Linked DNA regions of Homo sapiens: region 1 is linked to region 2. The links come from fine-mapping of genetic effects on gene expression. A gene starts in region 2. The other region holds a variant in brackets. All regions are shown on one strand. Distances are between the middles of the regions. Region 1 has its middle 64 kb from the start of DHX36. Region 2 holds the start of DHX36 (DEAH-box helicase 36).

Region 1 (3,037 bases), 64 kb after region 2:
CATTCATGTTAGGAGTGAAGTCTGCTGTTCTATTTTTGCTTTCTTTATATATTTTTTTCTTTCCTGTTTCCCTTTTCCTGCCTTCCTGTGGGTACCTGATTTTTTTCTTATTTTTTACTGTTCTGTTTTGCCTTGTCTATTGTGTTTTTAAATATATCACTTCGTATACATTTTTTGTTGCTCAGTGGATTACAGTATACATATATAACATCAGTTGACTAGTATCAACAGTTTGACACTTCTAGTGAAATGTAAGAACTTTACAGCCACTTAGGTATTTAGCTTACTGCTTTATAATTTATTTTCTTAAATAATTCCTTTACATACATTGACAACCATGTCAGATAATATAATTTTGCTTTCAGCCATCTCACATTTTTAAAACTCAAGGATAGCCTATTATATTTACCCAAATGTTTACCCATTCTGTTCTTCATTCCTCATCTTCCAAGTTTCATTCTGTTATTTCCTTACTTTGAAAAACTTTCTTCAGCAATTCTTTTTTAAAAATTAATACTTCACTTTTTAGAGCAGTTTTAGGTTTACAGAAAAATTGAGCAAAAGGTACAGAGGTCCCATAATCCCCTTTACCCCCTCCCACCAGTTTTTTTAAATTAACATCTTGTATTATGGATTATATTTGTTATAATTAATGAGCTAATTTTGATACTTCATTATTAAAGTCCGTAGTTTACATAGGGTTCACTCTTTGTGTTGTACATTTTGACACATGTATATGTATCCACTATCACCGTATCAGAGAACACTTTCACTGCCCTAAAAAATCCTCTGTGCTCTACCTATTCTTCCCTCCCTACCCCTGAGTCCCAGGCAACCACTCTATGTGGTTTGCCTTTCCAGAATGTCATTTATTTGGAGTCATAAAGTGTGTAGGCTTTTCAGATTGGCTTCTTTCACCTGGCAATGTGCATTTAAGGTTACTTCATGTCTTTTTATGGCTTGATAACTTTTTTTTATTGCTCATTAATATCCCATTGTATAGATGTAACAGTTTATCCATTCATCTATTGAAGGACATCTTAGTTGCTTTCAAGTTTTGACAATTATGAGTAAAGCTGCTATACACATTTATGTGCAGGTTTTCCTGTGGGCATATTTTCAACTCATTTGGATAAATACCAAGGAGTGTAATTGTTGGATCATATGGTAGGTGTGTATTTCTCTAAGAAACTGCCCAACTGTCTTCCCAAGTTGTTTTTGCATTTCCATCAGCAGTGAGTAAGAGTTCCTGCTGCTCCACATCCTCATCAGTATTTGGTATTTTCAGGGTCTTAGACTTCAGCTATTCTAATGAATATAGTGGCATCTCCTTTAAATTCATCCCTCATGTATGATCTTAGATATCTTTTCATATGTTTATTTACTAATTGTGTTATCTTTGGTGAGTTGCCTAGTTCCCCCCCCGCCACCCCTGAATTTGAACACTGGGTTGTTTTTCTGTTGAGTTTTAAGTTTTCTGTATGTTTTTGATTGCCAATCCTTT[G/ATG]TTTTGCAAATATTTCCTGTCTGTGGCTTTTTATTCTAACAGTGTCTTTCACAGAACTGAGGTTTTTACTGTAAAAGTTCAACTTACCAATTTTTTTTCTTCATGGACCATACTTTTTATGTTGTAGATAAAAAGTCATTACCAAACCCGAGGTCACCTAGATTGTCTCCTATGTCATCTTCAAGGAATTTTATAATTTTGCATTTGGAAAGGCCTAACTTTCCAAATAAATTGATAATTCTTAATTTTTGTTTTCTGACCTACTTATGTTGCCATCAAAGAACTCACTCTGCATAACTTCAGTTCTTTAAAATTTGTTGGAATTTGCCTTATGGCCCAGGGAATAGCCAAATGTTGTAAATATTTTATGTGCTTGAAAAGTATGTATATGCTGAAATTGTTTGCAGAGTGTCCTATATATTCCCATTATGTTAAACTATTTCATTAAAATTTTCTATTCTTTTCCTGATTGTATCTATTCTTCCTATCAAATACTGAGAGATGTGTTGAAGTCTCATGCTATGATTTTAATTATTTTTTCTTATATTTCTGCCAACTTTATTTAGTTGAGGCCATATAGTTAAATATGCTAGGTTATTGCTAGAATATATATTTAAGTTACTCCATCTTCCTGATTAGATGAAACGTTCATCACTATGTAGGCACCCACTTTATCCCTAGTGATACCTTTTACCCTAAAGACCACTTTATGTAACATTGATAGAGCTCCATTTAGTGAACGTTGTGATGTTCTGCCCTGACCCCCCATCAGGACTGAAGGACTTTTTGCTTTAGGTGCTGGGAATGCAACTGGATGACAGCCTTCACCCATCAACCCTCTATGGGAATTGTCCTGAGCTGAAGGGAGCCACCTTATCCAAGACCACTCTCTTTTCCTGGGGATAGCCTGCCTCTCATATCTGGTCAGAGCAGGGTTATAAAGGTCCAGCCCCTTGCCAATGCTGCTTTCTCTCTCCACTCTCCTCTGGGATTCCAGTTAAATCCCTACATTCTCCAGGTCTCCTCTCTCCATGCTTCCTTATGGGTAGAATCTTCTAGCCTCTCTTCCCGTTCCCCAATATCTCTTTTAACTCTTACCTAATCTGGCATTAAACGCGGTTCCATAATTTCTAGGTTTTTTTCTTCTACTACACAGCTGTGTAGTTCCGTTATGGCTTTATCTCCATCAACAGCAATGGTAAGTACTTTAATGTCTATACCTAATGATTCTAGTATACAGAGTCCCTGTGTTTGTTTTTTTCTGGATCACAATGCCATGTCTTAGTGTTTACTGAAACTTTGACAATTTGCTTTTAGAAGTAACAGAAGTCTTAGTTCTGATGATGCTGGTTTCTTTCAGAGACAGGATGTGTTTTCTTCTTCCAGGACTTTAATATACTGAAAACTCAGAAAGCAAACCTTTAGATCTTTCAGATTCATACTCCCACAGGAGAATAAGCCCTTTAGGGACCAAATCCATGAGAAGTGTTATTAATGGTACTAAACACTGACCTGGATTATTTTTTAGCACTG
Region 2 (2,500 bases):
AAGACAGACTTAACCACATACATAATAGAGTTCACAGAAAAAGGTGATTCAGGGAGGTAGAGTTCTGACTTATCTACCATCTTATAAAGGGAAGGAAAGGGGAAAACAGCACGTATGGAAAAAACAAATGACTTTTAGTAAAAATAAATGACACCTTAAAACAGATGCCAGATATGATAGCTTTGTGACAATGTCTATTCAAGTGTGTTGCCAGCTTCTAACCTCCAGTGATAAGAGTCAGTCTTCCTGGGTTTCCCTCCCAGGGAGGAGCTTGATTTGAATTCCTCCGTGTGGTTCTGCATTTAGACAGGTAGATTTCAGAAACTCAAATGTCTTTGCTCAAAATAATTTTTAGGCCACAATGGTGTATTGTAGACCCCTTCCTGGCATACAGCATTTCCCTTTCTTAATTCACTGCACAAAGATAGCCTTTGTCTTTCCCTTAAGACTGTAGGCAAATAAAAGCTCATGCCATACTTGCTTTGTTCAGTGAGTATTCCCAGCACCTTTACATCAGTTAACTGTAACATGAGCTGGATATCTCCTGGTGTACATCCAAGCCTGTGTGGCCCAATTACTTGATTATTCAAGAACAGCTTGTACAAAACACTCAGTGTGCTGGTTAATAAACAGTATGTGGCTTCATATGAACACATGAATCTTCAAAGTAGTTTATTTACATTGCCTAAGAGCTCTGCACCGAATTTGGGTAGACACGCTCATCTTAACACTATTGGATAAACGTACTAAATAGTGACAACACTTTCAAGGAGGTAAGGGGATTTTAAATTACATATTTGAATAGTTGTCAGGCTGTTTTCAAGACTAGAAGAACTCATTTTTTAGAGACTTTTCTTTAGAAGACGGCGAATTGATCCAAGGGTTCTTTTGTTTCAATCAACGTTTACTACCCTAGGACCTAAGTGCAAAAAAACTGCGGATTTACCAGGAATAAGAAAGTAAAAACCAAAAGCTATTGGCTCACTTGCTGGGCCTAGGGAAAGAAAATCTACGAGCCTTTGGCTGGCTGTTGCTCCAGAGGTACAAAGATAAACAACTCGGGGGCTCAGACAGAACCTGATCCCTGCCACCCTCCAGACCACCGGGGTCGTCCTCCCGTGACGTCACCAGAAACCACTGCTTGTGACGCTAAATGGCCCGCCCTCTTGTGCGGTGCTACGGAAGCAAAACGGAAGTGGGCGCACAGTGGCTTCCGGGCCCGGACGCCATTTCCAGCGGTTGCTGGTTCTGACGGGTTGTAGTCTGCCAGGACAATGAGTTATGACTACCATCAGAACTGGGGCCGTGATGGGGGTCCCCGCAGCTCCGGTGGGGGCTATGGAGGGGGGCCAGCAGGGGGTCATGGAGGTAACCGAGGCTCCGGAGGAGGCGGCGGCGGCGGAGGGGGTGGTCGAGGCGGCAGGGGCCGGCATCCCGGGCACCTGAAAGGCCGCGAAATCGGCATGTGGTACGCGAAAAAACAGGGGCAGAAGAACAAGGAAGCGGAGAGGCAAGAGGTAATCTCGGATTCAGTAGTGGAGAGGATGAGGCAGCACAGGTTTTCTTCTCTCTCCCGCTGCCCCCTTTTTCTTGGTTTTGTTTCTTAAGTGATGCACGTGTTTTGTGAAATGTAAATGAGGCGCAAATATATTATGCTGGCGCTCCCCGTAGCGGGTGTACTGCGTAACATTAGCCATGCTCATCTGACCAAAAACAGGCAGGATTTATGCAGGCTGAATATATACTTTGCTTAAAGGACTTGAGAACTGTGACAAAGCAAATGTTAAGTTCACGTTCCAACCGAAATTAACTTTATTAGGAGTGTCGTTGTCGTATCTCTGGCCGTCCTTTCCCTTAGAATAATAATTGTCACTTTAAGGTCTTTGCCTGGTGAAGAAGCACATAGCGACCTTTCTACATTTGAGATAGGTTTGCGCGGAACAAAAGCAGGCAGACACTGTTTTGGATGTGGATCATTCAGAAAAATAGTCCAGCTTTTATTATTAGTGTTAAAATTATCTGCAAACCTAGGTTTTTGTTTTTTATGTTGGGGTGGAGAAATTTCTATTGATGAGCAGATTCTCTTTGAAAAGGAAAATGAAAGGAATCTCCAGAGATGATTTGGCTTACTCTCCTCTCTTCAGGTGATTGTCAGGTTGATTTGTGTCTTAAAGATCTGTAGTAAGGGAAACAAAGTTCTCCGAGTGACTAGTAAATAAAATTCTAATAAAAAATAATTTTTATCATTAAGCAGGAACTTTCTTAGTATAGGCCTTTGGTGACTTTTTAAAAGCACCTTATAAAATGTATTATAGAGTGTAATTAGATCATCATTTAGGCAACTTTTTTTTTTTTTAAGACAGGGTCTCACTCTGTCGCCCAGGCTGGAGTGCAGTGGCACGATCTTAGCTCACTGCAACCTCCGCCTCCCAAGTTCAAGCGATTCTCCTGCTTCAGCCTCCCGAGTAGCTGGGATTACAGGCGTCCGCCACCACCTCCG

What was found.
Region 1: its variant is fine-mapped to the expression of DHX36 in ovary (GTEx, PIP 0.94).

What each region holds. Positions count from the first base shown.
Region 1 is chr3:154,259,117-154,262,153 of GRCh38, reverse strand. No RefSeq gene overlaps it. Among named protein-coding and RNA genes, the nearest start is that of DHX36, 64 kb to the left of the region's middle. The variant G/ATG (reference allele first, on the strand shown) is at 1,505.
Region 2 is chr3:154,323,191-154,325,690 of GRCh38, reverse strand. It overlaps DHX36 (DEAH-box helicase 36), which reads left to right and starts at 1,204. Exons shown (of 25, transcript NM_020865.3): 1 at 1,204-1,517. The coding sequence starts at 1,275. RefSeq lists an enhancer at 1,017-1,311.